6 separate regions of the Homo sapiens genome follow, and regions 1, 3, 4, 5 and 6 are each reported to be linked to region 2. Evidence: microRNA targets listed by miRTarBase, many of them from high-throughput screens and not tested one by one. Region 2 holds a microRNA gene; each other region holds the end of a gene's coding sequence.
Evidence for each region. The annotated mature microRNA hsa-miR-4638-5p reads ACUCGGCUGCGGUGGACAAGU and lies in region 2 at 1,473-1,493, opposite strand. An mRNA with a match to its seed (bases 2 to 7 or 8) in the 3' UTR can be bound and repressed. Matches are read on the target gene's strand: a 7mer-m8 pairs with bases 2 to 8, a 7mer-A1 pairs with bases 2 to 7 and ends in A, and an 8mer does both.

Region 1: the mRNA of HINFP is a reported target of hsa-miR-4638-5p. Seed matches in the 3' UTR shown: 7mer-A1 at 513-519 and 8mer at 1,879-1,886.
Region 3: the mRNA of G6PC1 is a reported target of hsa-miR-4638-5p. The part of its 3' UTR that is shown has no 7-base or 8-base seed match.
Region 4: the mRNA of WDR31 is a reported target of hsa-miR-4638-5p. Seed matches in the 3' UTR shown: 8mer at 2,877-2,884.
Region 5: miRTarBase lists NOL10 as a target of hsa-miR-4638-5p. The part of its 3' UTR that is shown has no 7-base or 8-base seed match.
Region 6: miRTarBase lists PIAS4 as a target of hsa-miR-4638-5p. Seed matches in the 3' UTR shown: 8mer at 3,475-3,482.

Annotation. Positions count from the first base shown.
Region 1 is chr11:119,134,094-119,139,179 of GRCh38, forward strand. It overlaps HINFP (histone H4 transcription factor), which reads left to right. Exons shown (of 10, transcript NM_198971.3): 10 at 1-1,966. The coding sequence ends at 405. Among named protein-coding and RNA genes, the nearest start is that of ABCG4, 12 kb to the right of the region's middle.
Region 2 is chr5:181,221,140-181,226,139 of GRCh38, forward strand. It overlaps MIR4638 (microRNA 4638), which reads right to left and starts at 1,494; the gene lies at 1,427-1,494. TRIM41 (tripartite motif containing 41) reads left to right here and starts at 2,142. Exons shown (of 6, transcript NM_033549.5): 1 at 2,142-3,673. The coding sequence starts at 2,861. It overlaps TRK-CTT2-3 (tRNA-Lys (anticodon CTT) 2-3), which reads right to left and starts at 912; the gene lies at 840-912. It overlaps TRV-CAC1-5 (tRNA-Val (anticodon CAC) 1-5), which reads right to left and starts at 1,328; the gene lies at 1,256-1,328. RefSeq lists silencers at 721-930, 1,181-1,410, 2,681-2,890 and enhancers at 2,141-2,370, 3,038-4,035.
Region 3 is chr17:42,911,049-42,916,117 of GRCh38, reverse strand. G6PC1 (glucose-6-phosphatase catalytic subunit 1) reads right to left here. Exons shown (of 5, transcript NM_000151.4): 5 at 1,680-5,069. The coding sequence ends at 4,692. Among named protein-coding and RNA genes, the nearest start is that of G6PC1, 13 kb to the right of the region's middle.
Region 4 is chr9:113,312,478-113,317,563 of GRCh38, reverse strand. It overlaps WDR31 (WD repeat domain 31), which reads left to right. Exons shown (of 11, transcript NM_001012361.4): 11 at 655-4,342. The coding sequence ends at 815. Among named protein-coding and RNA genes, the nearest start is that of RNF183, 12 kb to the right of the region's middle.
Region 5 is chr2:10,567,427-10,572,506 of GRCh38, reverse strand. It overlaps NOL10 (nucleolar protein 10), which reads left to right. Exons shown (of 21, transcript NM_024894.4): 21 at 317-1,753. The coding sequence ends at 436. Among named protein-coding and RNA genes, the nearest start is that of NOL10, 120 kb to the left of the region's middle.
Region 6 is chr19:4,036,815-4,041,890 of GRCh38, reverse strand. PIAS4 (protein inhibitor of activated STAT 4) reads right to left here. Exons shown (of 11, transcript NM_015897.4): 10 at 4,387-4,517; 11 at 2,505-4,275. The coding sequence ends at 4,016. Among named protein-coding and RNA genes, the nearest start is that of ZBTB7A, 28 kb to the left of the region's middle.

The DNA.
Region 1 (5,086 bases), not on the chromosome of region 2:
CATGAAGATGGCTATATGCGGCTGCAGCTGGTTCGCTACGAGAGTGTAGAGCTGACACAGCAACTGCTGCGGCAACCACAAGAGGGATCGGGCCTGGGAACGTCGCTGAACGAGAGCAGCCTGCAGGGCATTATTCTAGAAACAGTGCCAGGGGAGCCAGGACGTAAGGAAGAGGAAGAGGAGGGCAAGGGTAGCGAAGGGACAGCCCTCTCAGCCTCTCAGGACAACCCCAGTTCTGTCATCCACGTGGTGAATCAGACCAATGCCCAAGGCCAGCAAGAGATCGTCTACTATGTGCTGTCTGAAGCCCCAGGGGAGCCTCCCCCAGCCCCTGAGCCACCTTCAGGGGGCATCATGGAAAAGCTTCAAGGAATAGCTGAGGAGCCAGAGATCCAGATGGTTTGAAGGCCGCAGAGCCAGACCATTTCTTCCCCAGGTCCTGAAGTTTGAGCCAGGCAAGTGGCAGTGCCCCTAGTGGGCAGCCGTTGCCAATGGATGCCTTTAGGAGTGGTGCCGAGAGCAGTGTGGTCCACTCTGGCCTGGGTTTGCATCATTCTGCAGACTCTAAAGACTTCCCTTTTCTGCCAGACTACATTTTGTGGGGAGCCTGAGGACTCTGGATTCTTTGAGGGGATCCTGGATGTGTGTGTTCTTGTTAAAGAGGCTGTTATCAGGCTTAACCATAACCCTCAAGATCTGCTTGACAGTGATTAAATCCTTAGCTCACATCCATTCCCATCTTTCGGGCTCCTTAGGCCCAAGGATGGCATGTGACTGGTCCCTGCAAGGGTCCTTTCTTTGTCACCAGCCAAGGCATTGATAACCAAGTAGCCATTTTCCTCTTAAGGTTTCCTCTACAACCCCAAGGACTTTCATGATTATCCTCAGGGACAGGATTGGAGGCATTGAGCGTGTTTATTAACAAATTGTTTTTGGTAATAAAATAAATGCTTGGACTCTTATTTATTTCTTCTTACATTTGGTGGCAGTTTACTAGGTAATGAGGAGATACAGCCACCCAGAAGAGGAGCTGAATAGTTAGGCTTGTTCCCCTTCTGGTGACTCAGGTGGTTTGTTTTTTGTTTGCTTAACTGTCCTGTTGTCTTCTCCTCCTCCCCTTGGTGAAACTTCGCTATTCTCAGAGCGTATGCCATTTCCATGGAGGTCCCAGGTGTTTGGCTGTGAGTGGGCAGTAGTGGTGCTATAGAATGAACAAGAATGGGCTCACTGGGAGGATAGGGCAGCTGACCATGGCCTCACTCTGAATACTGATTAGAACCCAGTGCCTCTAGGGTAGGGGTTCTTTACCTGGGAGTGGGAAGGAAGCTGGGGGGTGGAGAGGATTGGGAAGCCTCCCAGGGAAGGGAGGCAATCAAGTGGTCCAGGAACCAAACTAGAAAATTGTGTGTCTGAATGTGCATTTTCCTGGGGAAAGGATCTGTTTTTTGCTAGATTATCAAAGAGATTGAAACCTCCCAAAATAAGAATCATCATTTCGTCTGGTTCAGCTGCTTCTCAGCACCCTGTGTCCATTTTTATGGTCTACTGCTATGCTGGAGAGGTCAAGGAAATAGTCTTGGGGACAGGAAGCTGCCCAAAAAGGATCTCTGGGCCTTTTTTTGTAAGACCTAATTCTATTACTAGAAAAACTAAGGCTGAATGCAGTGGTTCACGCCTGTAATCCCAACACTTTGGGAGGCTGAGGCGGGCGGATCACAAGGTCAAGAGATGGAGACCATCCTGGCCAACATGGTGAAACCCCGTCTCTACTAAAAATATAAAAATCAGCTGGGCATGGTGGCACACATCTGTAGTCCCAGCTACTCGGGAGGCTGAGGCAGGAGAATTGCTTGAACCCGGGAGGCTGAGGTTGCAGTGAGCCGAGATCATGCCACTGCACTCCAGCCTGGCGACACAGTGAGACTCCGTCTCAAATAAATAAATAAATAAAGAAAGAAAAGAAAAACTGTGTGTGTCTATTTGTGGAAAGAAAAAGATCTCTTCATTAATCCCATCAGCCATTTATTGAGTTCCTACTATAGTCCAGGCACAGGTGCTAAGGATACAAAGATGAATAAAACCCAGGACCTTCCCTGGAGGGACTTGCAATGCAGAAGCAAGGAAAGACTAGGTAAGCTGAGTGATAGAAGTTAATCAGGGTACATTTAGAAGGCTCCAAATAGGAGTAATGGTACTACCTGGGCAAGGGATCAGGAAAGGTTTCATCCAGGAAGAGACCTTCCACCTAACCAAGACTAGATGAAGACTTTAAAGGTTCTAAACTCTGAAAAGATTGTGGTGTCCCATTTTTCATATGTAATCAGAATGAAAATATTAAGCCATGAAACATTTAAAGTTCAACATGATTATACTTAAAACATATATTGTATATAGATTAACTATCAAATTCTGTTTCTAATTTTTTCTTTTATTTTTCAGTTCCCCAGTTTTGCTGGTGTCTAAGCACTGGCGTGGGGTGTCCCTTGAGTAATGCAGCACTAATGACTCTATCCATTCTTCCATGAGCAGTGTCTTCGGGAGCAGGCCAGCATTCTATGAAAAGGACCTTCCCTACTAGTCTTCTCAGTCATGCCCACACCAAATCGCATTGCTCTATCTGGACCATGGAGACAGCAGAAGAGATTCTGGTCTGTTACCATGTGATTCCATTCCCTAGGAGGAGGGGTGACTTGGGATCCTGGACTCAGTATGCATGGCTTAGAAAGTACTGGACCAGGAGTGAGGGGTCACTGTTGAGTAGTCTAGGCAGCCAGAGGCCTCTGGAAGGATACTAAAGGCTGTGGTGGGTGACAGTGGGCTCCTGGAGGGAGGAGGGTGATGATACTAATTTGGTTACCTTAGAATTTCACCTAGAGTCAACCCTGGTCCCAGCATCATGGTGTCTGAAGATTAAGGAGACACCCTGTCTTAGTCTTCCTTAAAGGGGGTAGGGATAGGAGAGAAGGCAGGTGGCCCAGGAGTTGGAAGCAGATAACTTCTTTTCTCTTATTTGTGGCAAGTCCACAACCACAGAGGACTTAGAAGAACTGGGTGGATATAAAAAAGTGTCAACTATGGCCGGGTATGGTGGCTCACGCCTGTAATCCTAGCACTTTGGGAGGCCGAGGTGGGCGGATCACTTGAGGTCAGGAGTTCCAGACCAGTCTGGCCAACATGGGGAAACCCTGTCTCTACTAAAAATACAAAAATTAGTTGGGCATGGTGGCACATGCTTGTAGTCTCAGCTACTCAGGAGGCTGAGGCAGGAGAATTGCTTGAATCTGGGAGGCAGAGGTTGGAGTGAGCTGAGATCACGTCACTGTACTCCAGCCTGGGCGACAGACCAAGACTGTCTCAAAAAAAAAAAAAAAAAAAGTGTCAACTAAAAAGGAAAATTGAAAAAGAGGCCAGGTGCAGTGGCTCATGCCTATAATCCCAGCACTTTGGGAGGCCGAGGTGGGTGGATGGCTTGAGCCCAGGAATTCGCGACTAGCCTGAGCAACATGACAAAACCCCAATTCTACAAAAAATACAAAAATTTAGCCCAGGCGTGGTGGTGCATGCCTGTAGTCCCAGCTACTTGGGAGGCTGAGGTGAGAGAATTGCCTGAGCCTGGGGAAGTTGAGGCTGCAGTGAGCTGTGATTGTGCCACTGCACTCCAGCCTGGATGACAGAACAGTGTCTCAAAAAAAAAAAAAAAAAAAAAAGAAAAATGATTTCTCCAAGATGAGAAGGGAGAGGAATGATGAATGGTCATGGGGAATAAATAATTACTGTCAGATTATGACCTAGTGAATTTGGACACTCAATGCATGTTAAATGAATAAATGAAGTTTGCTCAAGATCAGGAATCAAATGAGGAACATATCCATTTCATGTACAGTAGCAGAGAGACTTAAGGCTGAGAGGGAAGGGTGGAGGAGATGGTGAAAGCTTCTTCATACCATGCTAAATAGCTTGGATTTCTTGGCTGGGGAGGGAATGTGGAGGACAAGAAAGTAGATGAAACTTGGAAAGGAATGGGGATGTCCCCACCCTCGTGGAACTTAAGGCTAATTTCCTGAGGGGAAGAGACTAGAGGCCAAGGGGAAGAAGCCAGTGAGAGAAGATTTCAAAAATACAAGAGAAGCCTGGTGCGGTGGCTCATGCCTGTAATCCCAGCACTTTGGGAGGCAGAGGCAGAGGCAGAGGCAGGGGCAGAGGTGAGAGGATTGCTTGAGCCCGCGAGTTCGAGACCAGCCAGGGCAGCATGGCAGAACCCAAACTACAAAAAACTACAAAAAGCAGGGCATGGTGGCACGTGCCTATAATCCCAGCTACTCGGGAAGCTGAGATGGGAGGATGGCTTGAACCTGGGAGGTCCAGGCTACAGTGAATTGTGATCGTGCCACTGCATTTTAGCCTGGGCAACAGAGCCAGACTCTGTCTAAAAAAACAAACAGCAACAACAACAACAACAACAACAAAAAAGAAAAATACAGGAGCGAGGATATTTGATAGGGTAAAGCCCCTAGATTTGGGGTGGGAAGAATATAGAGAACAAGTAGATAAATAAAACTTGGAAAGGAATGAAGTAGAGAGAAGAAGGTAGGAATGGGAGTGGATATGGATTTTGTTCATAGGCATAAGGGGGATTTCATGCTTGGTGGTCTCTATTTCATTGATAAAGTAGGAATTAAAGTTATTGAAGATAATCTGTTGGATTAAGGATTTATACAAATTGACACATTTTAGAAATGCCATTAACAGATATAAGAATGAGATAGAAGACCTGACGACCCAGCTGAAATTGAAGACCAAGATCAGGCAGGGGCAACTTCAATACAACCATAGAATTTTTTTTTTTTTTCAGCAGACAGGAGCACCCCTGGAACACAAACAGAAAACAGACCACTGGGTGTATCACAGCAATGGTGTGGTGGCCAGGACATGGGTTGCACAGGGCCAAGGAGCAAGGCAATTAGAGCAGCTAGAGATGGATCATGAAGTCCAGACTGGACGGTGAGGGCCTAGGAAGCTGGAGGTAGTACAGCAGTTACAGTCACACCACTGGAGGTTCCAGTGAGGCTTCTGAAGATTAGTGGGC
Region 2 (5,000 bases):
AAAAAAAAAAAAAAAAAAAGAAAGAAAGAAAGAGAAGAAAAAAAGAAAAAAGGCCTATATTTGCAGGACTAATTTCGAGGCCATCCTGGGCTCAAGCGATCCTCCCGCCTTGGCTTACCCAAAGTATTGGGATTACAGGCATAAGCCACCGCGGCGCATGGCCCGTTTTTATCTCTATTTATGTATGGGGGAAACGTGGAGGCTGGTATTTGTGGGGCAACATCTCACAAAAATAGACTCTTAAAGTCAAGAGCATAAAAAAGAATATACGGAAGACAAGTGTCTCATATGACACAAAGCATCTTTCTTGACAGGGAGTCGAAAGCAGGTCGTAGCGAGACAAAGGCGGAAGCCTAACCACTAAATCTCCCAGTAAAGTGGGAGTGAATCAGATAGGTTTTGACGCTCACGAACGCCTGGGGTCGTCCTGCGGTCTCACCCCAGTTTCGATAAACCACATTGTTCCCTCCAGCACAGCAAGTCTCACAGCAAGACGGGGGCAGGCCGTCTGGTAAACATAAAATGCCTAATATGTGCTGCCCGTGGGCGAGTGGCCTACAGCAAAGGGTCATGCATGCACGATAGCCCGCGGTGCTGGCCTGCAGGAATTGGTCCACAGGTACCCGCCTCTCATTCTTTCTTTGAGAGTTAGCGAGGGTGCAAACGTTGTGAGAATTCTGCTCGGGGCCTTCCACACACGGATCGGAGAACACCAGGTTAGTCCAAGTTCTAACACCCACTGTTGGTGAATCTGCTACCCACTAGGTCTTGGTACAGAGAATACCATTTGTGCACTTAGGTAACACAACTTGCCTTAACCTTTCCAAAAAGCGAAATTACGCCCAACGTGGGGCTCGAACCCACGACCCTGAGATTAAGAGTCTCATGCTCTACCGACTGAGCTAGCCGGGCGGCCATGTCTGTATTCTAACTTTGTCTCTGAAGATGGAGGTTACCCTCAGAGGTGTAAGCACGTTTCCACTGTGCAAATACTAAGAAGCGCCTGCGCCTGGCTCTGTTCTAGGCACTAGAGCCGAGGATCTGAAATCTACGGATTCCTGTACATGTGATGGCTGCATAGGCTTCAGAAGGGAAGAGCAAGAGATTAGGTGAGGGGCGAGACCTGAATTTACTTGAGTAGTGCTCTCCTTCAGTTTTGCCCCAGTCCGTGTTCCTCCGAAGCGCAGGGACACACATGTCCTTCCTGCCACGTAAGGCCGGCCTCGGGAGAGAATCTCCCGAACAGACCAAAACGTGTTTCCGCCCGGTTTCGAACCGGGGACCTTTCGCGTGTGAGGCGAACGTGATAACCACTACACTACGGAAACCACCTTGGCTACTTTCCTGCCGGCATCGTCCTGAAGACACACACGGCTGAGACGGCCGGGATAGCTCTAGGCAAGCGCCCTTGTAGGACAGGCCCGGGGACCCCTGCCGCGGCCGGCTGAGCGGTGTCCAGGTTCTGGAGCCGGACTTGTCCACCGCAGCCGAGTCCGCAGGTCCTGTAATGGCCTAGCATAGTTCACCCACGAGGGTTCGTGGTTTTTGGCGCGTTTGATCTGACATACTCAGAGGCCTGACCACCCCCCTAGGAAGCGCGACGTCCATCTGGAGTTTTCCCGCGAGCCGCCTTGAGAGCAGGGTAAGTTCTGCAGGCCCAGCCCTGGCGTCACGCTGTGTCTGGCACTCACTGGAGATTCTGTACATAAATCATGGCCCCGTCATTTTTCTCGCATCAAACAACATTTATTTATTTATGTATCGACATCAAATCTCTATAAAAATAAAATTTAAAGAGCTATTTAAGCATCAAGTATTATTTCTACCGCACAAAGCATCTATTTTTGCAGAGATGCTGTGAGAATGTAGATGTAATGATTCGTCACCACTTCTTCACTGCTGGGCAGTTAGGGAAGTTCATCTAAACCATGAGACAGTGTCCGGTTGGCAGTTTCTACCTCGGATGCGAAACGCCGACTACAGTTGGGGAAGGGTGGGGCGTCTGCTGCCCTAACCCGCGAAGCGCTTTCTCAGGCCCCGCCCCCGGTCCGACCCGGACGACCCTCTGAGTCCTCCACAACGAAGTCGTCTGCCTAGAAGGGCCGGAAGTACTTCAGGGCGCGCCGCGGACCCACCCCCTCGCTTCCGGCATCGGCTGTGGGGAGTACCGGCTGCAGTCGGCTGTGCCGGGAGGGTAGGATGGCGTCTGGCCGATGCGGTGATAGCACCGAAAGCAGACGGCCGCCAGGCGCTCCCCCTACCCCCCGAAGTTTCTCCCCAGCGGCGGGGGATGGGGGTAGGCGGTTCCTCTGTTCTTTCTGCGTTCCCCGCGGCCTCTTACCACAGAGACGCGGGCCTCCACCGTCCTAGCCCTCCCGCCCTGTTCTCTAGTGCGGACTAGAGCGTCTCCTCGCCATTTCCTGTCGCCCTGGGGCCCCGCGGGGAAAAAGGGGGAGTAGCAGGACAGCGGAGGGAAGTCGCGAGCTTAGGTGGTGTGTAGACGCCGGAAGTGTTGGGAAGGAGGCCGGAAGCTAGGGGCGGGGCCAGGAAGTGAGGAGGGGCGGGGGTTTATGAGGAGTCCAAGGGAGCATTGGGGCAGACTTGTACTCAGAGCCACCTGAGGGACTTGGCGGTGGCGCCCAGCACTGTCCCCTCCCCTCGTAGAGACACGGTTGTCGTTTGGGAGTAGGGAACACTGTGTTGGGGTGGGTTGTCGGCAGGACATCTCTCTGGCTGCTCTTGGGGCGAGGTGTGGAGGGGCAGGGCTGGGGGTGGAGCCGGGTCGCCAGGGCGTCGGTAGGGAAGACCCCCGCCCCTCGCCCCCCCACCGAACCTCTACACTGGCTGGCTGGACACTAAGATGGCTGCCGTTGCCATGACACCCAACCCTGTGCAGACCCTTCAGGAGGAGGCGGTGTGCGCCATCTGCCTCGATTACTTCACGGACCCCGTGTCCATCGGCTGCGGGCACAACTTCTGCCGAGTTTGTGTAACCCAGTTGTGGGGTGGGGAGGATGAGGAGGACAGAGATGAGTTAGATCGGGAGGAGGAGGAGGAGGACGGAGAGGAGGAGGAAGTGGAGGCTGTGGGGGCTGGCGCGGGGTGGGACACCCCCATGCGGGATGAAGACTACGAGGGTGACATGGAGGAGGAGGTCGAGGAGGAAGAAGAGGGTGTGTTCTGGACCAGTGGCATGAGCAGGTCCAGCTGGGACAACATGGACTATGTGTGGGAGGAGGAGGACGAGGAGGAAGACCTGGACTACTACTTGGGGGACATGGAGGAGGAGGACCTGAGGGGGGAGGATGAGGAGGACGAGGAGGAAGTGCTGGAGGAGGTTGAGGAAGAGGATCTAGACCCCGTCACCCCACTGCCCCCGCCTCCAGCCCCTCGGAGGTGCTTCACATGCCCTCAGTGCCGAAAGAGCTTTCCTCGGCGGAGCTTCCGCCCCAACCTGCAGCTGGCCAATATGGTCCAGGTGATTCGGCAGATGCACCCAACCCCTGGTCGAGGGAGCCGCGTGACCGATCAGGGCATCTGTCCCAAACACCAAGAAGCCCTGAAGCTCTTCTGCGAGGTAGACGAAGAGGCCATCTGTGTGGTGTGCCGAGAATCCAGGAGCCACAAACAGCACAGCGTGGTGCCATTGGAGGAGGTGGTGCAGGAGTACAAGGTGAGAGAAGTACAGAGAGAAGATGGGAGTTTAGTGGGGGGATGGAGAGGAAGTAAGGGGACCTGGGAAAAGGAAACATCTCTTCACCCACCAAAGAACCTCATGGTATTGGTGAGCCAAGTTTGCTTATCTAAGCACTTACTGCCACCAAGGTGGATTAGAATGAGAAGGATTCTGTACACAGAGCAGATGCAGTGAAGACGACCAGGGAAGGATGGCTTCCTCAAAGCAAATAGAGCAAAGCCGGTGATGCCAGATCAGGTCTCTAGGGCTTTACCAGAAGTCTCGTTTTCTTTCGGGTGAGTCTTAAGTCTGTCCTTGACGGAGACACCTAGAGATGGAAAGAACTGGGGGCTTCAAAGGACAAGAAAAGGCTCAGAAGCAGGAACACAGAGATAACTGCTAGTGTCAGTGTCAGACCCAAATGCTCTGCACTTGCCTCCCAGTGGGTTCCCCACCTACCACGATATGGCTTGGTTCTGTCTTCAAGGACTTTGGTTGGCTCTGTGTCATTCTTATGCACTGACTAGAAAGCAGGAGCTTTTCAGTCAGAAGACCTGGCTCTGCAAGTTGCATTGTCAAATCTTGATTAAGTCTGTGAGTGTCTTTGGACTTTAATTTGTCCAGGATTGATAGTTAATATTCACTGGACATTTATATGTATACCAGGCACTGTACTAGGCACTTTTCATGGACTGTCTCGTTAAAACCCAGACAACACTGAGTTTGATATGTTTTCCATTCCCATTTTATAGATTGGGAAACAAAGTCAGAGAGGCTTTAAGTACCATACAGAGGGCCACAGAGCTTCAGTAATAATTGACTTAGTTATTTACTGTCCCTTCCCCTGGTGTATACTAACAACGCCACCACCATTTGGATGTCTGTTGTTTGACTTTTCTGATGTGACTTTCTTGGAGTCTGATTCTAGTTTGACAAATACCTTGCCCCTACTTCTCATTTTGACTCTTCTTTGGACATAGGTAAAGGAGATTTGTTTGCAAGGCAGCCAGCACAAATAGCACTACTTAGTGAAGGCCTGGATGGGTTTGAAGCAGTGGGACCAGGAGGAGGAGGGGGTAGCCTCTGTGTGGTCTGCACAGAGCTTTTTTTGTTTTATAACTCATGTTTTCAGACCTTCTCCTGATTCCTGCTATAACTTCATTTAGGTATTATTTTCGTTACCCCAATTTTAGAGTAATGTGTCTAGGGTTTCTCAGCTCTGAGTGGTACAGCTAGACATACCTACATTACCTCATCACAAGTAACAATTTCTTTTACAGAGTGGCCTTTTTTTTTTTTAATTTTTTGAGACGGAGTCTCACTC
Region 3 (5,069 bases), not on the chromosome of region 2:
TATTTATATGAAATGCCCCAAATAGGCAAATCTATGAGACAGAAAGTAGATTAGTGGTTGCCTAGGCTTGAGTGGGTTGGAGTGGAATGAAAACCCCTGAATTGTACACTTTAAATGAGTGAATTGTATGGTATTGTGAATTATATCTCAAGCTGTTATACAGCTTTTTTTTTTTTTGAGATGGAGTTTCACTCTTGTTGCCCAGGTTGGAGTGCAATGGTGTGATCTGGGCTCACTGCAACCTCTGCCTCCCCGGTTCAAGCAGTTCTCCTGTCTCAGCCTCTCAAGTAGCTGGGATTACATGCATGTGCCACCACGTCTGGCTAATTTTTTGTATTTTTAGTAGAGACGCGGTTTCACCATGTTGGTCAGGTCGAACTCCTGATCTCAGGTGATCTGCCTGCCTTGGCTTCCCAAAGTGCTGGGATTACAGGCATGAGCCACCGTGCCCGGCCTTGTTATACATTTTTTTTAAGGTGTTACAATTTTGTTAAAAATCAAAAACATGGCTGAGTGCAGCAGCTCATGCCTGTTATCCCAGCACTTTGGGAGGCTAAGGCGGGAGGATGCTTGAGACCCTGTCTCTACAAAAAATAAAAAAATTAGCCAGGCATGGTGGTACGCATCTGTAGTCCCAGCTATTCGGGAGGCTGAGGCTGGAGGATCATTTGAGCCCCAGGAGTTGGAGGTTGCAGTGAGCTGAGATTGCGCCATTGCACCCCAGCCTGGGTGACAGAGTGAGACTCCATCTCAAATAATAAAATAAAATAAAATAAAATAAGATAAAATAAAATAAAAAGATAAAATAAATAACCAAAACCACAAAAACCTAAGCCTTTGGTCTATGTGTGATGTGGCAGCACTGGTCCACGCAGCAGAAGTTGGACTTCCTTAATGGGTCTATTTTCTTTGGGCAATAATAGAATTGCATTGCGTGTGTGTGTGTGTGTATCATCCTCAAGCCTACCACCTGAAAACTGATACACTACTAGAACATTCTACCAAATTATGCCATAACATGACATGGACCTTGCTTTAAAACTGTCATCGGTCACTTAAACTTGCCTCACAAGCCATTTCTAAAGTGGACGTAAATCTATAACTTAGGGAACAGATGAGTGATCAAAATGTTCTGTCTAATAAGCAGGATATATTACAAAATGATTATTTTGTATCTGGGATTACAGGCGCGAGCCACAGCACCCAGCCCAGACTGCTTGCTTCTTTTTTTTTTTTTTTTCTGAGACAGGGTCTCACTCTGTCACCCAGGCTGGAGTGCAGTGGCATAATCTTGGCTCACTGCAACCTCTGAGCTCAAGGGATTCTCCCACCTCAGCCACCTGAGTAGTTAGGACCACAGGCATGCACCACCACGCTTGGCTAATGTTTTGTATTTTTGGTATAGACGGGGGTCTCACCATGTTGCCCAGGCTGGTCTCGAACTCCTGAGCTCAGGCAATCTGCCACCTCAGCCTCCCAAAGTGCTGGGATTACAGATGTGAGCCACCATGCCCAGCCCAGACTGCCTGATCCTTAACCTGGTTCCACCATTCTGGACAAGATGACTAACCCCTCTGGACCTATTTGTAATATAAGGATAAATGACAGTAGCCAACTCACAGAGATGTTGGGAGAACTAAGCGAGTTAATTGTATAAATAAAGTACATAGAACAGAATCTGGCATAAAGTTAGCACTCAATAAACTTTATCTGTTATGTTTTCTTATCAACCTCATAAACTTCAGGGAGTGGGGGCAGTATTTACTTTCTGGCAGACCTTTCTTGTAAGGATCTTGGACTTGGTCCTTGGGAGCAAATAGATTATCAAGGATGGGGCTATGCCTAAGCAGTAGGGTTCAGTTCAGACAGATCAAAACCATTTCTGGCCAAGCGCAGTGGCTCACACTGTAATCCCAGCACTTTGGGAGGCTGAGGCAGGAGGATCACTTGAACCCAGGAGTTCAAGACCAGCCTGGGCAGCATAGTGAGACCCCCATCTCTATTAAAAAAAAAAAAAAGACTATTTTCTTTCTCCCTGGTTGGGACCATTTGATTCTGTGAGGGGCCTGGTTCCCACAACGCCCTCTGAGAGCCCAAATCCAGTAGGAGAATGCAATCTTCCCTGAATATACAGACTCCGGAGTTCAGGTGTGAAATAGCGGAGCTTACCCTCAGGAAATCCATTGATACGGTGATGATTTGAGGCCTTTGGAGGTCGAACCCTGCACCCAGGATGAAATAAATCTCTTAGCAGAGAAACCTGCAATAGCTCCCTTGAGCATTCCTTGGTGCTGTGACTGGCTCTGTTTAGACTTTCTTGAACTATAACCCAAAACCTTGCTGACACTGAGTTACTGGATTCCAGAGCTGGCCTAGTCTTGTTGTGTTACTGCAACTTGTGTGCCCTGATTGCTTAATTTGATAGTGACCCTGCCCATCTACTCTCAAGTTGCAATTTGATGCCATAGAGCAACTCATGCTGACTTGTGGTCTGGTAGCCAATGTTCATTCTTGGCCAACTCTGAATCTTTCTGGTTCTATGCTGATTTTGGGCCTCCGTTTATGTGCTCAACTCTGCCTGTGCCCCTGTGGATGCATTTAAGTCTCCCTATCCCTAATGGGACTCTCGGTCAACTCAAGAGAGAGCACTTTTCTTCTCCAAAGGGAAAATGCAGGCACAGAGAAACCAAATTATTTGTTTAGGGAAACAGAGCTAGAAATTTAGTTGGGCCAGAATTAGAAACTTCAGATCACATTGCATCTAAAATATAGTAATTAACAAGACTTTATTCTTAAATAAAATGTTGCTTTAATAAAATACTGCACATATATATTTTTCTTTTCAAAGATGTTATGAGCAGGATGGTTGTTTTGAATGATAATGTATGGTATACTATATAATTAGTAGCAAAAACAAGGACTTTCAAATAAATAGGCTTCAGCTTTTTTTGGGGGGTAGGTGGGTGGGGCAGAAATACTCTGCATATCAGATGAGATTGAAAAACAGGCAAGGAGGGCCCGGTGCGGTGGCTCATGCCTGTAATCCTAGCACCTTGGGAGGCCAAGGCAGGTGGATCACTTGAGGTCAGGAGTTCGAGACCAGCCTGGCCAACATGATGAAATCCCATCTCTTCTAAAATTCTAAAAATATAAAAATTAGCCTGGCATGGTGGTGCACGCCGGTAGTCCTAGCTACTGAGGAGGCTGAGACATGAGAATCGCTTGAACCAGGAGGAAGAGGTTGCAGTGAGCCAAGATCGTGCCACTCCACTCCAGCCTGGGTGATAGGTGCGCCGTCTCAAAAAAAGAAAAAAAAAGAAAAGCAGGCAAGGAGGAGTTGGCTAGCTGGACATAGTGGCTTGCACCTGTAGTCCCAGCTACGCGGGACGCTGTGGTAGGGTGGGAGGACTGCTTGAGCCCAGGAATTCAAGAGCAGCCTGGGCAACATAGTGAGACCCTGTCTCAAAAAAAAAAAAAAAGAGAGAAGATGTTGACTTTTCCTTTAAGAATGTGCTCTTGGTTGGCTTGGGATAGAGAAAGGAGTCATATTTACCCTCTAGGAATTAAAAGTAACACTGGAGTGACCTGAGAGAGGAATCCTGGCCCTCCCCTTGTCATTTTGCCCAAGATTTCAGAGCCTAATTGAAACATACAAAAGCACCACCAGAGTCGCCCTCTAGCCTTCTGAAGATCCAGTGGGGTGGATGTGGAGCCAGTGGAAGAATCTGGAAAAAGCAGAGCTGGGCTTATAAGGAGGATGATGTAATGTGATAGAGGAGATGTCAGCTATACCTGAATGTTTTGACCTAGTGCAATATCTGGGTCACTGCAGCCATTCAGAAATCCAAGGAAATACGATGAACATGTATGCACAGTAAAAAAAATACTAGAAGCAGAATTACCCCACTAACCATCTATTAATTATACTTAAGCTGGTCCCCCATTACTGAGAGTGCATTACTATATAATTAAAGCCATTTAGACATGGCTTGGCATAGCACTTGCATGATACGCCACATACTAAAAACTCCTCCTTAGGCAGCCTTCTTTTCCTATCAGATTCAGAGCTCCTTTCTCCTTTTCTCGGTAAGAATGAACACAGGTAGAAAATTCTCAGTTAGGATCTCCAGCCTGGGCTTGTGAGCTGGCCCTACCTGGAAGTCTTGCTTTTGTATATGTGACGGAAGAATAAGTAAGTCTTCAGGGGAAAATCCAGAACAACCCAACTTCTAGCAACAGGTCTTTCTCAATAGCTTCATTAGCTTTTCAAAAACATTACCCAATATGATTAGGATTGTAAAAGAGGACCACCTGAGCTGACAGCACCTCTGGCCTCAAAATGGGCTGGCAGAAGACCATTCAAAGATAAAATGGGCTGTTCCAGTGGGAGTGAGCTCCCTACTTGTGAGAGTATTCAAGTAGAGAGAGGAGGACCTCCTGGCGGGAAACTTGCATATGGTGTACGTGATATGGCACCTCCATCTGAAAGAGTCTGTGCTGAGGGCAGGCTGGAGTCACACATGGGAATAAGCCAGGCGACCCTCCAATCTGCCATCCGTGATTTAATTCCACGACGGCAGAATGGATGGCATGTCACTTGCTCCAAATACCAGTGCCCATTGCTTCAAATAGTAGTCCTCCTCAATCCCTGGCATGGTTGTTGACTTTAAACACCGAAGACTCCACATCTCTTACAACGACTTCTTGTGCGGCTGGCCCAGGACCTGGGCGAGGCAGTAGGGGATGACACTGACGGATGCCAGGGGCACTACCGCACTCTTGCAGAAGGACAAGACGTAGAAGACCAGCTCGACTTGGGATGGGGGTTTCAAGGAGTCAAAGACGTGCAGGAGGACGAGGGAGGCTACAATAGAGCTGAGGCGGAATGGGAGCCACTTGCTGAGTTTCCCCTTGCAGCTCTCCCTGTACATGCTGGAGTTGAGAGCCAGCCCCAGGCCAAAGAGCGTGCCCAGGTTCTTGAGGAGGCTGGCAAAGGGTGTGGTGTCAATGTGGACCCATTCTGGCTGCTCGCACCACCTCTGGGCTTTCTCCAGAGTCCACAGGAGGTC
Region 4 (5,086 bases), not on the chromosome of region 2:
TGCTGTACTGTTACCTGGAGTGGCTTCTCCAGCCACTCAGGTGTAACTGTTGCTTGAGGAAAAAGAGCAGATGTTTTAGACTTAATGATCATAAATCTGACCAGGGAGAACGAGATCTGGAAATGTTGACCTGACCAAGTGGCACAGATTCCCTGCCCACCAGGTATGCGCCTGTAGTTTTTAGAAGAGTGGCCTCTAAGATGCAGATGGAGGGAGATGGGTCAGCTGAAACCCCCAAAGACTGCCTTTCGGGCTCTCCCATTATCCTCCATCTCCAAGGCATCAAGACCCCAGGAAGCCAGCAGCTAAAGATCAGTATCCTTGTGTGTTTTTCCCTGCCTGGGCCCTGCTTTATTCTCTGGGCAGGTGACTGAGGGCACCTTTGTAACATGTCTTTAGCCGGTGAGACCCCGACACTTCTTGGTGATGGTATGCATCCTGTTTGGCCCGTGTGCCATTCTCTACCATTGAAGTCATGGAGTTGGCCCAAGTTCTGACCTCCCTGGTATGCTTTCCTCTGAAGAAGTGGGGTCTCTCTCATACGGGTTAGATATGTACAGCAAATGCTTTATTTCCTTGCATTTCTCATGAAGACATCACATTTCATGATGCTACACTCTTGGCCTAATCTGCTGGTCCCCCTTTCCCCCCCAGCCTGCCTTTTCACCTTGTCTCTGGATGGATCAGGACCCTTGACTTCTCTGGCTGTTGGTGACGCCATCTCCTTATTGTGTGCAAGTTTTAACAGAGGAATTCACTTACTCAGAATGGACCACAGCCAAGGGCTGGAACTGCAGGAAGTGGCAGCATTCTGAGGCCAAGAGACACTCACTGGACAATATCAAACCATGGCTCCTCCTCAGCATGGCTTTGTGTCTTTCCCAGTTATCTTGAGGGGAGTGGGATGTAGGGCTGGTATTCTTTGCTTAGGTTCATTTACAAGATGTATCAGTGTTGTAAGTCCAATAATTTAAGTCCAGTGATTCAAAATCAGGTATAGAGTCCAGAAACATGGACTACACATAAGGTTCTCTATTTAAGTTAAATACAAATGCAACTTTTTAGTGAGCTTTTAGGACTACTCTTCAAAAAAAGTGTATTGCTCAGAATGATGACCTGTAAATGTAAGAGTGGCAGGCCTCTGTCTGTGAAAGTCAGAACACAGGGCTCGAGCCTCTGGAACTGACCCTTTGCAAGTCTTTACAAAAGAAAAAAGGCAGTGGGGAGAGAGAGTGTTTTGGTTACATCAGAAATAATTGAGATGGGAAAGAATAGTGCAGCTCCATAGAGGAGACGGACTGTAGACAATGAGATTAAGCTTCAATCACTGCTCCTCAGCAATGTGAAGAATCAAAGTCAGGGCAAGAAAGCGAAAGCTTGGACTTCTATTCAAAGTGGCAGCAGAGTGGGAGGGCGGTACCCTTCTAGCCCAGTGCTGCTGAGCTTGTGTGAAAATCAGACCTGAGATGGCTTGAAGCAGCCAAGAACCACATGGGCATTGCCCAGAATTACAGGAGTTAGCACACCAGCTCTACAGATAAGAAAACATTGAAATTCAAAGATTAAGGCCAAAAATATCTCACTTGCAATTTTAATATTTTCATTTGGATTTATATAAATGAAACATATATATGTTTTGGAATGGCCAGAGTGAGGCAAAGGGGATCCCTGAAATAACATTAGAACATACAGGAAAAACGAGGCAGGCAGATCACTTTAGGTCAGGAGTTCAAGACCAGCCTGTACGTGCGTGCCTGTAGTCCCAGCTACTCGGGAGGCTGAGATGGGAGAATCACTTGAACCTGGGAGGCAGAGTTTGCAGTGAGCTGAGATTGTGCCACTGCACTCCAGTCTGTGTGACAGAATGAGACCTTGTCTTGAAAAAAAAAAAAACAAAAAACCACATACAGGAAAAAAGAGAGGGATGGAGTCAACTGTGCCCCAGACATTAAGCCCCCTTCAGTGAGGAGGGGCAAGGTGCTCAGGCCTGCCTGTGTGGCCCCCAGGAGTCAGACCTCAGCCTCATGCTCACTGGTCCATTTTCCTCCAGGGAAAATGGAGTTCTTTCTGCCTTCAGAGATGCCCACACATAAGGCACATGAGGCTGTTGGTGACACCATCACCAACACTGGAGATTCCCTTTCTGACAAGTCCCAGCCAAAGAAAGATTTTGCATTTGTCTTCTCTGTCCTCTGCTTGTCTCTGATACCAGTGACTGACAGCCACCTTCCTTCTTCCCTCTCTTGGTGTGATCATGGCTAACTGCAGCCTCAATCACCAGGGCTCAATCAATCCTCCCTCCTTAGCCTCCTGAGTAGCTGGGACTGCAGGCATGCACCACCACACCTGGCTAATTTTTTGTGTGTTTGTGTGGTCTAAAACTCCTGGGCTCAAGTGATCCATCTGCCTCGGCCTCCTTAAGTGTTGAGATTACAGGTATGAGCCACCACATCCAGCTGAGAGTCTGTTCTTAAGCTAGTACAAAGAGTCAGACCCGACTTTGAATCTCCACTTCTCCATTTAGCTGGATGATCTTGGGCAAGTTATAAAATCTGTTTCCTCTTCACTTTATAACGTGGGTTTCATGATCATACCTCGCCACAGGGCTGTTCTGAAGACTGGACATAGCTATTTTAAATGCCAGGAAAGGCCAGGCGCAGTGGCTCAAACCTGTAATCCCAGCACTTTGGGAGGCCGAGGCAGGAGGATCACCTGAGGTCAGGAGTTTGAGACCAGCCTGACCAACATGGAGAAACCCCGTCTCTACTAAAAATACAAAAATTAGCCAGGCGTGGTGGTGCATGCCTGTAATCCCAGCTACCTGGGGAGCCTGAGGCGGGAGAATCGCTTGAACCCAGGAGGCGGAGGTTGCGGTGAGCCGAGATTGTGCCATTGCACTCCAGCCTGGGCAACAAGAGCGAAACTCCATCTCAATAAATAAATAAATAAGTAAATGCCAGGAAAGGTGGTGACAAATGGTAGCCATAATTATTTATTGTCCTCTCTGTCCAGACTAAATGTTCCCTTTTCCATATTAAACATTTACCATTCTGCCGGACGCGTTGGCTCATGCCTGTAATCCCAGCACTTTGTGAGGCCTAGGCGGGCAGATCACAAGGTCAAGAGATCGAGACCATCCTGGCCAATATGGTGAAACCCCGTCTCTACTAAAAATACAAAAATTAGCTGGGTGTGGTGGTGCCCGCCTGTAGTCCCAGCTACTCAGGAGGCTGAGGCAGGAGAATCGCTTCAACCGGGGAGGCAGAGGTTGCAGTGAGCTGAGATTGTGCCATTGCACTCCAGCCTAGGCAACAGAGAGAGACTCTATCTCAAAATAAAATAAAATAAAATAAAATAAAATAAACGTTTACCATTCCTTGATCCTTTTTTTTTTTTTTTTTTTTGAGATGGAATCTTGCTCTGTCGCCCAGGCTGGAGTGCAGTGGTGCAATCTCGGCTCGCTGCAAGCTCCGCCTCCCGGGTTGACGCCATTCTCCTGCCTCAGCCTCCCGAATAGCTGGGACTACAGGCGCCCGCCATCACGCCCGGCTAATTTTTTTGTGTTTTTAGTAGAGACGGGATTTCACCGTGTTAGCCAGGATGGTCTCAATCTCCTGACCTCGTGATCCGCCCGCCTAAGTGCTGGGATTACAGGCGTGAGCCACTGCGCCCGGCCTCCTTCATCCATTCTTAGATCTTATCCTCTAAACCTTTAGTCATCGTTTCACTCTCCTTTGATTCCTTGTTATGGGTCTTTCAACTCTGGAAAGACAAAGAGATAGTGGGAGAGGAAGCCCGGTCACTGAGCATCTACAGAGGGCTAAATATATTTATTCTCATTTGTTATTCCCAATATTCTCTGTATTGTGATTTCCATTTCACAGATGAGGAAGCTGAGGGCTAGAAACATGCAGTACTTTGCCCAAAGTCACACACATATTAAGAAGAGCTGAGGTATGAATCTGGGTCTGCCTGACTCAAAGCCCAAACGCTTTCCTTTGCATCGTGTCACAAAGTCATAGACCATGACATTGTTTGTATCTTCAAGACCAGTTATTAACTTTCTGGCTCCAAGGAGATCCCCTGCCCAAGTGCCTAGGGGCAGTAGACAGCTGTCTCAGGGACAGTCGTAGCATGTGCTGGATTATTAGTGCAGCAGCTGACACTTTTTCCCAGAAGGGAGAGAGGCAGCAAGTCAGAAAGTTCACGGGAATGAGTTGGGAGGGGGTCCCAGGGAAGGGGGACAGGCTGCCAGGAGAAGGAAAGTACACGGGAGAAAATAGTGGGGCTCTGATGAGTTAGTAGGGTTCTGTTACCAATAAAATTGTTTCCATAAACTGTACATGTGCTTGATGTCAAATTATCTATGCATTTTAAGTAGAAAATAGATTAGTAAATTCTAGTGTTTGTAGAGGACTTTTTTTAGTCTGATATGCCCTAATCAGATACTCTCAGCACCTAAGATACAGGTTGCTAAAATTCATTCATTCCTTGAACATTCATTGAACACTTCATTTTAGAGGCTGCCCTCTAAAATCATATCAAGGAATTTTCCAAAGACAATTTTTTTCCAGGAAGGTGGATAAGCCCTTGGAACCTGGCCAATTGCATATTTAAAATTTAAATAAATGTATACATTTACTTACATATTTATGATTTAAATATATATACTTGAGGGGAAATGGATACTTATTATTAATGTTCTTCATTTTGGCACAGAAAAGTGTAGAACTCGGGTCACTTGGTGTTTTTATAATCCAACAGTGAGATAAAAACTATTTCCAAATGGCCTTCTGAAAACATAATTATTAAAGAGCAGCTTTATTATTAGTAATGTAGTAGACTGTGGCAGGTGCGGTGGCTCATGCCTGTAATTCCAGCATTTTGGGAGGCCGAAGCGGGCAGATCACTTGAGGCCAGGAGTTTGAGACCAGCCAGACCAACATGGTGAATTCCTATCTCTGCTAAAAGTACAAAAATTAGCCAGATGTGGTGGTACATGCCTGTGATCCCAGCTACTGGGGAAGCTGAGGCAGGAGAATCCCTTGAACCTAGGAGACAGAGGCTGCAGTGAGCCATGATCGCA
Region 5 (5,080 bases), not on the chromosome of region 2:
AGTGTGTTGGTTGAAAAACCAGTCTCCTACTTTGTAGGAGGCTGGTCTGTCAGGGCCCTTCTCTTGCCTGGGGTTCAGAATTTCTGCTTTTGCATTGATGGTAAAAGTTGGCCTTGGTCCTGCTGTTTCTGCCAGGGTAGCATTTGTCAGAGCAGAGTCCAGGCAGCCCCACCATGTCCCCTGGAGCCTGTGGGCAGCATTTCTCCTGGCAGCAGTTCTGAGATTGGTGGTGGTACTGTTGGCAGCCTGACGGTTACCAGAAAAGAGGTATAGAATTTTCTCTCTTTCCCTCTACTCATTTCATTTTCTCTTTTAGTCTGAACAGCAGAAGAAGCAACAGGAGGCTGAGAAACTGCATCGACAAGAAAGGAAAAGACTCCGTCGTTCGGCCGGACACCTGAAGTCAAGACACAAAAGAGGACGGTCGTTTCATTGATTTGGGAAGTGGTCCTACCTGTGATTAGGGAGGGGTACGTCTCCCCCAAACTGATCATCGTTAGGGTGTTAAACACAGACGAGGAAACACACGTTTTTAAAGTTCATGTACGTTCTTGTACACAGAGGTAAAGATTTGAAAACCTGTGCCTTGTGGGTTGGACTTTGAAGCTGGCCCCGCCGACGGCCACCGCACAGCCCCAGGGGTGTGCTTGCGAGTCGTTGCTCCCTGGAAACATTGTCCTTTCCCCACGGCGTTAATCATGAAAACCAGGCTGGGGTTTTTTTAATATTGTGAAATGTACACCATGAAATGAAAGGTTTATCCTGTGCCAGAAACCAAGGTTTATCATGCTCTAGGAACTTTTTTCTTACACTGCCTACCGCCATTCATGATTAAACCATCCAGAAATACCATCCCTGTTTTACCTGGTGTCTGTGTATTGCCTGTGTTTGTGTTTATAAGTTTATGCTGATAGGTTTGTTCGGCTTGTTTATGTATTAGTTTGGGATTTGTTTTTAAATAATTTATACCAAGAGAGTATAATCTAATGGTGCAGGTTGAGAGCATCCCAAATCCGAAAATCTAAAACTGTTTGAGCACTGTATTTATCTGTTCTTGCACTGCTATAAAGAACTACCTGAAACTGGGTAATTTATAAGTAAAGAAAAGAGGTTTAATTGACTCACAGTTCTACAGGTGGTACAGGAAGCATGGCTGTGGAGGCCCTGGGAAGCTTACAATCGTGGCAGAAGGTGAAGCGGAAGCAGGTATGTCCTGCGTGGCTAGAGCCAGAGGAGGAGGGCAAAGGGGCAGATGCTGCACACTTTCAAACACCAGATCTCCAAGAACTCACTAACACAGAATAGCAAGGGGGAAGTCTGCCCCCATGTTTCAGTCACCTCCCTCCAGGCCCCTCCTCCAACACCGAAGATTACAATTTGACATGAGATTTGTGTGGGGACACAGAGCAAAACCATATCAAGCACTGACATGACATTGGAGGAAAATGCTCATTAGAGCTTTTCAGGTTTTGGATTTTCAGATTTGGGATACTTGACTAGTAAATATAATACAGATATTCCAAAACACACAAAAAAACCAAAGTCTAAAAGACTTCTGGTCCCAAGCATTTCAGATAAGGGATACCCAACCTGTAATAATGGGAAACAAGCAGTAGAGGCTGTTGGTTAATCTTGGCACAAGTTTAATTACAGGTTTTTTTTTTTTCCTGTTTCTTAAGTACAGTCAAACATAAACTTACTGGAGGAAACATTTATAAAAATAAATATACTTTCATTTGAATAGCTTCTTTGAGAAAGACTCCAAGAAAATTTTTTTTTCATTAGTCAAACGGTGGTGTGCACTTGTAGTCCCAGCTACTGAGGCTGAGGTGGGTTGCTTGAGCCTGAGAAGTCGAGGCCAGCCTGGACGACAGAGCAAGACCTGCGTCTCAAAAAAAGAAAGAAGAGAACCAACTTTGGTTTCCTTAGTTTTTCCAGCTTTGATGTGATTTTGGAGGTGCCTTTATAGATTTTTAAGGTTCTTTATATACAACTGAAATAGTAACTCTTTGGACTGTGAATGATACAGCCTAATTTCGAATAGCATAAGCCGAGAGGCAGAATGCATTAATTTACATCACCATGCTTGGGACATGGAACTGGCCTCAGGAACACCTAGATCCATGGCTCCACGGTCAGTCAGCTAGCACATGCGCACTCTATCTCTGTTTCCCTCTTTCTCTCTCTCTCCTTCCCCTACTCCCTCCCTTCCTCCTCCTGTCTCACCATTGTTCCTTCTCTCTTCAGGCCTCCCCTGCTGTCTTTTCCCTATGTGTTTCCCGTCCCCCTGCCTCTGCTCTCTGTGCTGCTTCTGCTTCTGTGCAGATTGGCTTGTTCCCAAGGCAGGGAACAGCTCAGCCATGTGTCCACTTCTGTGGTCCGAGAAATGAGGTCTGTTTACAGAAAAAAGGTGTGTGGAAGGTGGGGTATGTGTGTATGTTCTTGTTCCTGGGGCACCCAGCCCCATTTGTGCTGTGGTACCAGGGAGTCCTCCAGCTGTTCCAACCCCTGGACCGGTACTGTCCTTTTTCAGCTTCTTTCCCCCTAAACTCTTGCTCACTGTCCACCTCTTCTCAAAGGAAGTGGCTGCAGCTTCCTGTTGCCTTCTCTTCTCTGTTTCTACGCTGCCTCCCTCAGGGATGGGGGGTTTTAAAAATTTAGAGAGGGACATTTTGCTGGCTGGAATGTCCCCAGGGGTTGGGTGTTTATGCCCTTGGCCTGTTTCCTGACGTCAGGGTCTGTCACGTCTACTCCTGGCTTTCCCAGGCCCCTCTTTTCCTTCCTTCTTGAAGGGCCTCCTGGTTCTGTGGGGAGCCGGTATTCCGCAGGGCCAGATTCCACAGGCAGCGGTGCTCTCTGTTCACCCAGCACTGTCAGCACACCAGGAGGTCAGGACATCAGGGTAGAGGAGGAGGGCCAGGATCACTTCTGGGCACCTGGGAGGCTGGCAGTTTAGTAGAAAGAGCTTGCATTTGGAACCACCCTGACACAGGGTCGAATTCCAGGTCTGTTGCCTACTAGTTCTGTGTCTTTTGACTGTTGCCTTAATCTCTGTGAATCTCATTTCCTCCTGTAGATCAGCCTAATACTTAGTTTTTATTAGAGTAAAATGAGGCACTTACATTAGGTACAGCACCTGGCACTGTGCAAGGCTCATGAGGATTTGACAAAGCTTCTTGACCATTGAGGGTTTTCAAGAGCAGGGGAGGTGACCTCGGCTTTTGTTCTGGAGAGTTGCTGAAGGGCAGGCGGAGGGACTGCCCTGAGTCTGAGGGACACAGAAGGAGTGTCCGCTGACGACAGCTATATGGGTACTCCTCCTAGGCCTGACCCGTCCCTCATTGCCCCAGTTTTCCTACCGATTCAGCCCTTAACGCAGGCCTGCCTCTTCAGGGCTGATTCCCAGCGTGCCTGCTCTAATCCTTCATGTCTTCGAAGTTTCCTGTTTCCAAGTTTTATTCAGCTTTCATACTCTACTCCATAATTTTTCCGTGTGTGTGATATACTACTCACTAGTCCTAGGAAATGGCCATTTCCCATGGGTCTCTGTCCCAGGCACGCACAGCTGGGGGTGTTCATGAGCCAGTGCGAGAAGCATTTCCTCACAGATGGGGCCCCGAGGGCATGGCTTTTACAGCGGGACTGAGCTGGGGGTTCCTGGGCTGCCATTTCTCCCCTTCCCCTGCTCCAGATCCCCTCAGCCTCTGACACCCCAGACCTAAGGCCCAAGTTTGTTTATTTGTTTCCAAGTTTGTGCTCAGCAGTTAGGATAATGGTGGCTTTGGAGAGAGGGGGGAACATGGCTGGGAGGGACGTGATGGGGGATCCTGTTTGGTCTTGTTCCCTCACCTGGTGGTGGCTTTTCCCACGGGCGCACTTTGATCACTCCTGGGCTGCTCACGACTCATGTCTCTTTCTCTGTGCTTGTTATCCTTGAACACAAAGTTTCATTGAAAAAGAATTACTCGTGTTAGCCAGGATGGTCTCGATCTCCTGACCTCGTGATCTGCCCCCCTCGGCCTCCCAGAGTGCTGGGATTACACAATGAAACCCTGTCTCTACTAAAAATACAAAAAATTAGCTGAGTGTGGTGACAGGCACCTGTAGTCCCAGCTACTCTGGAGACTGAGGCAGGAGAATGGCGTGAACCTGGGAGGCAGAGCTTGCAGTGAGCCGAGATTGCGCCACCGCACTCCAGCCTGGGCGACAGAGTGAGACTCCGTCTCAAAAAAAATAAAAAGAAAGGAAAAAAAAAAAGAAAAAGAATTGCTTTATCGAAGGGACATGTTTCATGGCTCCTCACAAAACCATTTCTATAGATAACTCATAACACTGTAAGGTTATGTTTTTTAGATATTTTTCTGTTCTATAGACAATGATAGACACATCTGTTTTAATAATACAAATGGGATCACACTATATATGCTGTTCCTGAACTTGATTTTTGTAACTAACAATATATTAGAGATATTTTCCCAGGTCTATACATATTAATATGTAGGGTGATCTACCTCATTCTTTTGTATAGAGTATTTCATTACATGGCTGACCCATAATTTATTTAACTCTCTGTCTACATACAGTTCAACCTAAAAATCTAAAGAAATAACCTTTTAAAATCTTTTTTCAAAAAAAGTTTACATTCAAGGAGACACGTGCTTGTTTGTGAGATGGGCATATTGCACACTGGTGAGGAGTGGGCTTCCAATGCACCCGTTACCCAAATAGTGGACACTGCATCCAGTAGGCAGTTCCTCAACCCTTACCACCCTCCCAGCCTTTGGGGTTCCCTGTGTCTGTTATTTCCATCTTTTTTTTTCTTTTTCTTTCTTTTTTTTTTTTTTTTTTTGAGACAGAGTCTCGTTCTGTCACCCAGGCTGGAGTCCAATGGTGCAATCTCAGCTCACTGCAACCTCCGCCTCCCGGGTTCAAGTGATTCTCCTGCCTCAGCCTCCTGAGTAGCTGAGACTACAGGCACCCACCACCATACCCAGCTAATTTTTGTATTTTTAGTAGAAACAAGGTTTCACCATGTTGGCCAGACTGGTCTCGAACTCTTGACCTCAGGCGATCCACCTGC
Region 6 (5,076 bases), not on the chromosome of region 2:
GGAGGCTGAGGCAGAAGGATTGCTTGAGCCCAGGAGGTCGAGGCTGCAGTGAGCTATGATTACACCACTGCACTCCAGCCTGGGCGATAGAGTGAGACCCTGTCTCAAAAATAAAAATACAAAAATATAATTCACATACCATACAATTTCCCTTCAAGGCCAGGCGCGGTGGCTCATGCCTGAAATCCCAGCACTTTGGGAGGCCAAGAAGGGAGGATCACTTAAGCCCAGGAGTTCAAGACCAGCCAGAAAAACAAGGTGAAGCCACGTCTATGCAAGAAATACAAAAATTAGCCGAGTGTGATGGTGCACACCTGTGGTCCCAGCTACTCTGGAGGCTGAGGTGGAAGTATTGCTTGAGCCCAGGAGGTCGAGGCTGCCGTGAGCTATGATTGCACCACTGCACTCCAGCCTGGGTGACAGAGTGAGACCCTTTCTCAGAAATGAAAATAAATGTAATTCACACACCATATAATTGCTCTTCAAAGCCAGGTGCGGCAGCTCATGCCTGTAATGCTCCCAGCATTTTGGGAGGCCAAGGCAGGTGGATCACGAGGTCAAGAGATTGAGACCATCCTGGCCAACATGGTGACTAGTAAAAATACAAAAATTAGCTGGGCGTGGTGGTGCACGCCTATAGTCCCAGCTACTCAGGAAGCTGTAGCAGGAGAATCACTTAAACCTGGGGGGAGGTGAAGGTTGCAGTAAGCCGAGATGGTGCCACTGCACTCCAGCCTGGGCAACAGGGCAAGACTCCATGTCAAAAGAAAAAAAAAAAAAAAAAGGCTGGGCACGGTGGCTCATGCCTGTAATCCCAACACTTTGGGAGGCCGAGGTGGGCAGATCAGGAGGTCAGGAGATTGAGACCATCCTGGCTAACACGGTGAAACCCCCGTCTCTCCTAAAAACACAAAAAATTAGCCGGGCGTGGTGGCGGGCGCCTGTAGTCCCAGCTACTTGGGAGGCTGAGGCAGGAGAATGGCGTGAACCCGGGAGGCAGAGCTTGCAGTGAGCTGAGATCACGCCACTGCACTCCAGCCTGGGCGACAGAGCGAGACTGTCTCAAACAAACAAACAAAAAATTCCCTTAAAAAAATTATGCACCTGTCACCACTAATTCCAGAACATTCTATCCAGCCCAAAGGATGCCCCATATCCATTTGTGATCACTCTCAATCCCCTTCTCCACTCTCCAGCACCCGTGAATCCCCTTCCTGTCTCTGTGGATTGGCCTGTTCTGGACATTTCACAGAAATGGGATCACACGCCTCGTGGCCTTTGGTGTCTGATGTCTCTCACTAAGCATGGCATCCTCAGAGTTCGTCTGGGCTGGGGGCCTGTGTTAGAGCCTCGCTCCTTTCCATGGCTGTCATTCTGCAGTGTGGATGGCCACACTGCACTGATTCACTCCCCGGCTGGACATGGGTCATTGCCACATTTGGCTGCTGTGCACGTCCGTGAGCACATTTGTGTGGACGGACGTGTTCACTTACCTTGGGGACACGTCTAGGGCTGGCATTGCAGGTCCCACGCTAACTCCACATTTAGCCTCAACTGTTTCCAAGGGGCTGCACCACGTTATCTTCCCCAGCCATGTGGACTGCAGCTTCCCTGACCCTCGCTGCTGTTTTTGATGCTAGCTGTCCTGGTGGGGGTGACAGGTATCTCACCGTGCATTTGACTCACATCCCTAACATCTCTTCATGTGCTCATTGGTTGTCTGTATATATATTTTTTTGAGACGGAGTCTCGCTCTGTCGCCCAGGCTGGAGTGCAGTGGCGTGATCTCAGCTCACTGCAACCTCCGCCTCCTGGGTTCAAGCAATTCTCCTGCCTCAGCCTCCCGAGTAGCTGGGACTACAGGCGCCCGCCACCACGCCCAGCTTTTTGTATTTTTAGTAGAGATGGGGTTTCACTGTGTTAGCCAGGATGGTCTCGATCTCCTGACCTCAGGTGATCCACCCGCCTCGGCCTCCCAAAGTGCTGGGATTACAAGCGTGAGCCACTGCACCCGGCCCTTTTTTTTCACCTTACAAAAGCAAAACATTTGTGTATCGTCTTGGCCACCCAGAGACATGGACGATCCTGGGACCTGAATTCCATGTACAGCCCAAGTCCCTTCTCCCATTCTCCCAGCGTGGTGGACACCAGGCCCAGGCAGTACAGTACACAGTAAAACTGGCCTCATTCAGGTCGGGCATGGTGGCTCATGCCTGTAATCCTAGCACTTTGGGAGGCTGAGGCAGGAGGATCACTTGAGGCCCAGAGTTCAAGACCAGCTTGGGCAACACAGCAAGACTCCCTGTCTCTATTAAAAATAAGTAAATAAATAAAAATCTGCCTCATTTGACCACGAGCAGCACCTTTTGAATTCTGAAGCTGAGGCAATAACCAAGAAAGAGAGATGTGGGTGAGGCTGAGTTTCTGTCCTTCCCCCAACTCCGCCCCCCGACTACAGGGTACACACTTAAGAGACACAGGGCACAGAAAAGCGGACGCCTGGATGGCTTCACCTCGACCTTTTTTATTTGCATTTTTTAAAAACAATTAAATTAGAATACAAATATTAGAAAACAGCGGCCTTCAGCTGCCCGTGCGGGCGGGAGGGGCCGAGCTGCGCAGCGGGCTGCGGGCTCTGCAGTGAGACTGAACTGCCCTCGGCCAGATGCACGTCCCTTTCTTTAGACCTGAAATGATATTGCTTCCTGACTAGGAGTTCTGTTTATACAAAGGAAAATTCTGGGCTGGGGAGGACAAAAGCAAAACAGACCGCAGGCAGCGGTGTTGGAGAACCAGGTGAGGCCGGTGCCCCGCCTGCGCCCCGGTCTCCTGCGGGGCAAGGGGGGTGCCCAGCTGTGGGCTCCTGAAGGCAGAGCCCTGGTAGCTCCCCCAGTTGTTGGACCCTGAGGCCAAGGGCATGGGTGGGGCCTGCGAGGGGCCGGGAACGCCTGGGGACAGGAAGGAGGCCCCTGGTCTGGTCCTGCTGGAAGAGTGAGGCTCCCGGGGGACAGGGTGCCGGGCCAGCCTCGTACCCGTCGGAAAACCAAGAGCAAAAAGGAGAGGAATCAACCCAAACCGAGAGCCGGGGTGGCCGGGGTCCCTGCTGCCCCTTGGGAAGCGACCGCAACCCATGCCCCAAGGACCGGGGTATGGTGGCGGCGGCGGCGGCGGCAGCTGTGGACATCTGTGGACATCTGTGCTGTTCCGTAGGGAAGTTAACCTGAATTGGAATTACCGAGGTAGCTGGCTAGAAAACTGAGACCCCCCCACGCCACACGGTGCCGCACCCTGGGCCCCCGCCTTCCCCGGGGGTTCCTGACCACACGCCGGGTCTTCAAAATACCAAATTATTGCACTTTCAAAAAATACAACACATCTGTGGCTAAACCCTCCCCAGCCGCCCACTGTACCCCCATCCTGCCCACCCATCCCCCCACCCTACTGCCCCTCCCCGCCCCAACCCACTCCATGGCTTCTCGGCTAAAACGCTCGCTGCTCGGCGCGTGAGGGTCTCTGGGCGAGGATGCATTTGCAGAGAAAAAGCAAAGGAAGAGACAAACGTCAAAGTGGTCGCCAGAGAGGGGCTGCGCCCCACCGCCCGCCGCCCGGGTCCCCGCGCACTGGCTGGAATGGTCGTGGGCAGAGGGCGGCGGGCGGCGGGGCATCCGGAGGGGAGGGCGCGGGGCGGCGTCCTGGTCCCTCCCGCCCACTACCCCTTCCCGGCTCGGACTCCAGCCGGGGAGGCGGCTGTGTGGGTGGCCGGCCTTGTTTTTAAGAGTTTGACTTTTTTGTTTCATTTTTCTTTTTTGTATCTTTTTTTGTCATTTTACTTTTTTTTTTAATCCCCCGATAGGAGAGTCCAGAGGTACAGGTGCCAGGAGCCAGGCAAAAGGGTGGAAAAACAAAACGAACGACAATAAAAAGAAAAAGAAAGGTCACTCCTCCCTCTGCGCCCGAGGCTGGCCCGTGCCCCTCTGCGTGGTGAGCACCAGGAAAGTCGAGTGTGCGGCCGGGGTCAGCAGGCCGGCACCAGGCCCTTCTGGAAGGGGCAGCGGCGCTTGGGCCGGGGCCCCTCTTCGTCCTCGTCTTCCTCCTCCTCTTCCTCCTCCTCCTCATCCTCCGAGGACGATGAGCTGTCCAGCGTGAGGTCCACCACATCGGCGCCCGGCTTCCCATTCTCCATGCTGCCCACCGGGCCGCCGCCACCCGTGCTGCCCAGGGCACCGCTCCCGTTGACGCTGGGGGCGGGCAGGAGCCCATTGGCGTCCGAGGGGCCTACGGGCAACAGGGACAGGGTGCAGGTACTTAGGATGCAACCACTGATAAATGGGGAAACTGAGGCGGCCCTGGCTGCGGACTGCGCGGCTGGTGGGGTGAGGCACTCACCCAGCACGAGGATGGCGCCCTGCGGGCTGCAGCTGCGCTCCTTTTCGGCGCGGATCGGGCACCACGAGCCGTCCACCAGGTACTCGATCTCGTCGGCGTCCTCACACTCGCTCAGGATCTTCGAGAGGAGCCTGGGGCGAGGCGGACAGCTGACGCCGGGGCTGGAGGTGCCCCACCCCCCCAACTCCCCAGCCCTCCATCCCTCCCGGATGCAGCCAGGCACTCCCCACTTCTCTCTGCAAGAGCAGCCTCACCACCCCGACCGCAGGGGTCCAGGGACCCCGCATTCCCTCCCCCGCCCTCAGGCCCCTGCAGGTGCTGAGCCCCAGGCAGGTCTGCAGTGCACGGCACTGCCGGGGGGACGGGGCATGGACACACATACCCAGTGGCCCCCAACTACCCACAAGAGCAGGGAGTGTGGCAGCTGCAGGGGTCCTCCCCACCCTGCCCCTCTGGGCACCTCCGGGTGTGCACGCATGTTTGAGCGTGTGTGGACGTGAGTGTATCTGTGCATGTGTGCGAGCATGTGCGTGTGTGTGCACGTGTGCATGTGTGGAGTCTATGAATGTGTGTGTGTGAGCATGTGTACACACGTGTGAATGGATGCATATGGGCATACGTGAATGTGGACTGTATGGATGTGTGGCATGCGGGTGTGGGCGTGTGTGTGTGACGGTGTGGACTGTACAG